2 linked regions of the Homo sapiens genome follow. The protein of the gene in region 1 purifies or fractionates together with the protein of each later gene. This does not show direct contact. Each region holds a gene or a part of one and is shown on either strand. Other genes may lie near its edges.

Region 1 (3,656 bases):
TCTCCGGACTTTCCTGCCTCTCAAGCCCTGGACGTAGAGAAAGAGCAGGAGTCCAGAGACCCAGGATTGACACCTAGCCCTCTACTTTCTGGCTGCATGACTTGGATGAGTCATTTCAACTTGTTGGGCTTCAGTTTTCTAACTTGTAAATGGGGAGAATAGGCTACCACCCTGCTTGAGGAAATACTCTGAAAATGACAATGGAGGAGGGAGATAAGACTGCAATGTGAAATGTAAAGTGATGTCTATCTGCTCAGGGAATGAAAAAGATCCTGGACATATAAGTTGCCTTCCTTACCTGTCCTGAGCATCCTGATGCAAGGATAGTACTGTGGAATCTCAAGGAAAAGCTCCTCTAAGTTTCCCCTAGGAATTCTGGATGCTTTCTAAGACAATCACTCACCCATTCACCCACTCATCCATCCATCCATCCATCCATCCACCCATCCATCCATCCATCCATCCATCCATCCATCCATCCATCCAAATATCCATCCTTCCAAACATCCATCTATTCATCCATCCCTCCAAACATCTATCCAAACATCCATTCATCCATCCATCCATTCATCCATCTAAACACTCATCCATCCATCCCTCCATCCACCCATCTAAACACTCATCCATCCATCCCTCCATCCACCCATCCAAACATCCATCCATCCATCCATCCATCTATCCATCCATCCAAACATCCACCCATTCATCCATCCCTCCAAACATCCATCCAAATATCCATCCATCCATCAAAACATCCATCCATCCATCCATCCATCCATCCATCCATCCATCCTTCCATCCATCCAAGCATTCATTTTATTCATTCATCTATTCAAACATCCAACAATCCATCCAAGTGCCTACCCATAAACCTACCAATTTGCTTACCCATCCATTTCTTCATTTGCTCTATCCATCTAATTCTTTATTGTACACCTAATTTGTGGTGGTCACTATTCCCGGTCACTGTTGGGGATACTATGATGAATAATAACAGTAGCTTATATTTCCTGAATATTTCCTCTGCCTGTCACTATAAGCACTTTGTATGCACTGCCTTACTTAATCTTCTCAACAACCTAGAAAAGCATTAATTAATTAACTATTAAACAGTTGTTTATTAAGAACTATGTTGGGGTTGTTCTGAGCCCTGTACTCTGTGAACTAGGCGGATAAAGAAGACCCTGCCCATGTGCCATTTAAATTCTAGTGGGTGATGGGAATGCGCAGAGTTTGGTTGAGGTGGTGGTTACACCAGCATTCACATTTATTAAAATCTGTCAAATTGTGCACTGAAGGACCTGCATTTCCCAATATGTAAATTTTATCACAGTTAAAACATATATGAAGAATGAATTGTTCAAGCCAGTTCACCTGACTGCCATTACATCTAAAACCAAATCTCAATTCCTACCTTGTGGGCGATTCAGACAATAAGCAAATATAGAATATACTTGTAGGTGGAAATGAGTTATGTAAGAAAACAAAGCAAGAGAAGGGGTGGAAGGAACCAGGAGGAAGAGGCTGCTTTAGATAGAGTGTTCAAGGAAGGACCCTCTGAGTAGAGGACTCGAGCAGAGGCCTCCTTCCAGTCAATTTCCATTCTTCATAGGCCAACACTGTTCCCATTTCTATCAATGGATATTTATTTTTTGTTCTAGAATTTCAAATAAATGGACTCACACAGTGAGTACTCTGTCATCTGGCTTCTTTTGATCAACATTTTTTTTTTTTTTTGAAATGGAGTCTTACTCTATTGCCTAGGCTGGAGTGCAGTGGCGCAATCTCAGCTCACTGCAACCTCCACCTCCCAGGTTCAAGGGATTCTCCTGCCTCAGCCTCCCAAGTAGTTGGGCCTACAGGCATGAGCTACCATACCCAGCTAATTTTTGTATTTTCAGTAGAGCCGAGGTTTCACCATGTTGGCCAGGCTGGTCTCAAACTCCCGGCTGCAAGTGATCCACCTGCCTCGGCCTCCCAAAGTTCTGAGATTGCAAGTGTAAGCCACCGTGCCCAGCCTGATCAACATGTTTTTGAGCTCCATCCATGCTAATGCAGGTATCATGAGTTCATTCATTTGTATTGATAAAAAGTATTTTGTTATATGAATATACTACAAATACGTTTATTCATTTTTCTAATTATGGACATTTAGATTATTTACAGTTCTGTTGTTTTTGCTGTTGCCATGAATAAAGCTGCTGTGGACATATGTTTTCATTTCTCTTGGGTAAATACCTAGGAGTGAAATCGTTGGGTCATAAGAACAGAAATATTTTTATCTTTGTAAGAAACTGCCAGTTTTTCAAAGTAGTAGTACCATTTTATTCTGCAGTCAGCAAAGCATGAGAATTCTGATTGTTCTACCTTCTTGTCAACATCTGGTATTGTCAGTTTTTAAAATTTTAGCCACTCTAATAGATGTGAAATGGTATCTCATGGAGGTTGGAATCTTCATTTCTCTAATAACTAATAATGTAGTGTAGGTTTTTACATGTTTATTAGCCATTTGTATATTTTCTTTTTTAAAAAATTGGGTAGTCTTTCATTATTGATTTGTCATAGTTCTTTATATATTCTGGTTACAAATGCTTTGTCAGATATATGTATTGAGAGTATTTTCTCTCATTCTATAGTTTGCTTTTCTTTTTTCTCAAGGATATCTTTGTAAGAGCAGAAGATTTAATTTTTGATTAAGTCCAATTTACCAAATTCAATTTATCATTTAGTTTTTATTTAGTTTTTATTTTGTGACCACTTTAAGAAACCTTTGTTACACAAATATCACAAAGGCTATGTTTTGTTCTAGAGGCTTCATGATGCTGACTTCTACTTTTAAATCTATGATTCATTTCAAATTAATTTTTGTGTGTGTGCGAGGCAGGGGTCCAGGTTTAATTTTTCCTTATGCCTATTCATTTGTTTCAGGGTCATTTTTTAAGAGAACTTCTCTTTCCTGATTGAACCGCCTTGGGGGTCTTTGGCAAAAATCAATGAACTCTGTGTATGTAGATCTATTTCTGGACTCTATCCTGTTTTGTCAATCTATTTGTCTACCACAGGAAGGTTTTGGGCGGGTGTCATGATCTGATTTATATTTTAAGTAGATCAATCGGGGTGGGAAATAGGATAGGGTGAAAGTGGAAGCAGAACGATCAGTTTGAAGGCTACTCTAATAACCCAGGCTTGAACTGATGGTGCTTGGGTTGGGTATTTGGAGAGGAGACCGTGAGGAGTGGCAGATTTGGGATATATTCTGAAGTTGAGCTGCCAGGGCTTAATGATGGTTTGCATGTGGGATAGGAGGGAAGAGTGGAAAAGGTGAGGGGTCTGCAAGGCTTCTGGTTTGATCAATGGGAAGGACATGGTTGCCATTTAGTGAGATGGGTGCCAGGACGCTCAGGCATCTGTGGTCCAGATTACGAGAAAGGTACAAATCTGGTGAGACAAGAACTGAGAAGAGGCACAAACAGCTCAAAGGGTTGGGGGAGAGTCAGAGAAATCTTCCTGGAGGGGTGGCATTTCAGCTGCGGAGGGCATCCCTGCAAGGGAAGAGGAGGAGCGAAGGCTCATTGCAGGGAGACACATCCCACCCTCGTTGGCCTGATCTTCAAAATCCTTGTTGAATGATTGGATTTTGTGCTCTGAGGTCATCT
Region 2 (3,656 bases), on another chromosome or scaffold:
AGCAAGACTTCGTCTCAAAAAAAAAAAAAAAAAAAAAAAAGAATTTTAAAAATATGCAAGATGTGTAAGGATATAGATTTTTTAAAAAAGAATTTAGGTCAGGTGCAGTGGCTCACATCTGCAATCCCAGCACTTTGGGAGGCCGAGGCCTCCCAACATGGAGAAACCCCATCTCTACTAAAAATACAGAATTAGCTGGGCGTGGTAGCACATGCCTATAATCCCCCTACTTGGGAGGCTGAGGCAGAAGAATTGCTTGAACCCAGGAGGTGGAGGTTGCGGTGAGCCGAGATCGCGCCATTGCACTCCAGCCTGGGCAACAAGAGCGAAACTCCGTCTCAAAAAAAAAAAAAAAAAGAATTTAAAAAATAAAATCCATCCTGGCTAACACGGTGAAACCCCATCTCTACTAAAAAATACAAAAAATTAGCCGGGCGTAGCAGCGGGCGCCTGTAGTCCCAGCTACTCTGGAGGCTGAGGCAGGAGAATGGCGTGAACCCAGGAGGCAGAGCTTGCAGTGAGCTGAGATCGCGCCACTGCACTTCAGCCTGGGCGACAGAGCGAGACTCCATCTCAAAAATAAATAAATAAATAAAAATAAAATAAAACTGGCTTGGTTTGTTTATTATCTTCGTGCAATGGCAACTCTAAATCATATCTGTGATAAAAGGCCCCTCCTGGCAGGGGCTGACAGCTCCCATCACCCATCTTGGGATGCCACCAGCCCAAAGGAAACTAGTCCGGAGTCAGCCTCTGGGCTTCTGGTTGGCATCACCCAAAACTCAGCCATTAGAAACTTTAATTGCAGATACCCGGCTGGGCGCGGTGGCTCACGCCTGTAATCCCAGCACTTTGGGAGGCCGAGGCAGGAGGATCAGGAGGTCAAGAGTTCGAGACCAGCCTGACCAACACAGTGAAACCCCGTCTCTGCTAAAAATATAAAAATTAGCTGGCCGTAGTGGTGCGCGCCTGTAATCCCAGCTACTTGGGAGGCTGAGGCAGGATAATCGCTTGAACCTGGGAGGCAGAGGTTGCAGTGAGCCAAGATCATACCACTGCATTCCAGCCTGGGTGACATGGCGAGACTCCGTCTCAAAAAAAAGAAAAAAAAAAGAAAATTGCAGATACCTTTCTCCCCCTGCCTTCCAGTCTCACCAAAAACCCTAATATAAAACACAATAGCAGTATACTGTGTGGTTAAGAGCAAACTCTGGGTTCAAATCCCAACCTCCCCACTTAATAGCTACATGAAAGTTATTTAACCTCTCTGTGCCTCACTTTCCTCATTTATGAAATGGTGATAATAATGTAAGTACTTCATAATGCTCTTACAAAGATTAAGAGTTAAAATGGTGCAGAACATATAACAATGCCTGGCATAAATACAACATACAGGTTCATTATTATTAGTACAGCCTCTCCCTTAGATTACTTAGGCAGAGGGGACACATCCACAATAACTCCCAGTGAGGAGGGGAACCTGACCTCCTACTGCTATATGCCTGGCAGGGCTTCTAGGTGAGTGCCCAGAAACAGAGAAGCCTCCATTCCCTCATATTCAAAAAAAGCCTGCAGACCAAGATGTCCCAGATGCTTTCAAATGCTATTGATGTTAAAGAAAAGGGAGGTGCCCAAATAGCACACTGGATCCAGGAATTACCTCGCACTCATCTAGAGTGCCTTATCCCCCACCTCCCACACCCCCCTCCCCGTTCCATCCACACAAGTCTAAGCACCTGTTCACCCACATCTCAGGGAGGGCTGACCTCAAGCCACCCAGTGGTCCCAGGGCTCTGGCTGCTTCCTGACACCCCTCTGAGGACACATGATGGGCTCTAGGATACCAGGCCTGCAAGCAGCAGCCCTGTCCCAGCCACACTGGGATGAGGTGGAAGGGCAGGGAAGGGCAAAGCCCCTCAGGTCAAACTGTAGCCCCCTTAGCTGCCATTAACCCCTGCCTTTCTATAGCTTACCATTAAGCTGGCAAAAACTTTTTTAACTCTTAAGAAACTTATATCCTCCCTCAACCCAATAGTATAAATACCACTCTCCCCCTTCCAGGGGTGCCCCCCAGTTAAAAATTACTTTAACAATCTCCAAACTCTTCAAGTTGTATACACTAAATATACACCTTTATATATGCCAATCATACCTCAAAAAAGTGGTTTTTAAAAATTACTATAACTTAGTATCACCTCGTACCGTTTAGTTGTCCCTCGATATCTGAGGCGGATTGGTTCCAGGGTTCCCCCTTGGATATCAACATCTCCAGATGTTCAAGTCTCTTATATAAAATTTGTATATAACCTATGCACAGGCCGGGCACGGTGGCTCACGTCTGTAATCTCAGCACTTTGGGAGGCCGAGCTGGATGGACCACTTGAGGTCAGGAGTTCAAGACCAGCCTGGCCAACATGGTGAAACCCCGTCTCTACTAAAAATACAAAAATTAGCCAGGCATGGTGGCGTGCACCTGCAATCCTGGAGGCTGAGGCAGGAGAATCACTTGAACCTGGGAGGAGGTTGCAGTGAGCCGAGATTGCGCCACTGCACCCCAATCTGGGCAACAGAGACTGTCTCAAAAACAAAACAAGGCTGGGCGCCGTGGCTCAGGCCTGTAATCCCAGCACTTTGGGAGACTGAGGTGGGCAGGTCACCTGAGGACAGGAGTTCAAGACCAGCCTGGCCAACATGGTGAAATCCTGTCTCTACTAAAAAACAAAAATTAGCCAGGTATGGTGGCGGGCACCTGTAATCCCAGCTACTCAGGAGGCTGAGGCAGGAGAATTGCTTGAACCTGGGAGGCAGAGGTTGCAGTGAGCTGAGATTGTGCCACTGCACTCCAGCCTGGGTGACAAGAGTGAAACTCCCCTTCAAACAAATAAAAAAATAACCTATGCACATTTTCTGGATACTTTAACTCATCTCTAGATTATTCACAATACCTAATACAATGTGAATGCTATGTAAATAGTTGTTATATTTATTTGTATTATTTTTTATTATTGTATTTTTTATCTACAACTGGATTCATGGATAGGGAACCCATAGAAATGGAAGGCCAACAGCAACTGTATTATGAAAGCAAGGTCTCCACTTTCAAAATAGAAATCACATTTACCCCTCTTCAGAGACATGGTAATTACCCAGTTATCCCTTGAGAATCACTAAGACAGGACATTTAGGTCTGAAGTTTGGCAGCACTGATACAGCCTGCCCCGGACAGGTTCATGTACTGTATTACCTCATGTCGTCCCCAGCTCCAGTCAAGACTTACCTGCAGGACAGCACAACCTCTAGATTGGGAGGGACATTCAGCTCCTCCCCTTAATTCCTTACTGCCCTCCTTAGCTTTCAAAGGGTATCAAAGCTTCGAACACATCTTCCCAAGTGGCAGAAAAATGCCAATTTTCCCGTAATACCACAGTCATTACTGCCCTAATTCCAAACTCTCATTATGGCTGCACTGCCTGATATTGCTGCAATATAGCAAACTCCAGGTAGTTACCCAAACAAGCCATGTGGTTACACAAACCTACCTCCTCACTTATACATGCGACTCCCTCCTCTTGGAATGCCTTTTCCACCCCCACAGGTCTAACCTTGCTCCTCCTACTCACCCACATCTCAGGGAAGGCTGACCTCTAATCTCTCAG

What was found. Proteins that work in one complex are often made in the same cells at the same time.
Region 2: the proteins of IGSF21 (region 1) and RBPMS2 purify together in Homo sapiens (affinity purification with mass spectrometry; one large-scale study listed by BioGRID and IntAct). This does not show direct contact.

The regions. Positions count from the first base shown.
Region 1 is NC_000001.11:18,369,653-18,373,308, reverse strand, and holds part of IGSF21 (immunoglobulin superfamily member 21 precursor), read right to left. Parts: intron 1-3,656. UniProt on the Homo sapiens protein: Involved in synaptic inhibition in the brain. Selectively regulates inhibitory presynaptic differentiation through interacting with presynaptic NRXN2.
Region 2 is NC_000015.10:64,769,085-64,772,740, forward strand, and holds part of RBPMS2 (RNA-binding protein with multiple splicing 2), read right to left. Parts: intron 1-3,656.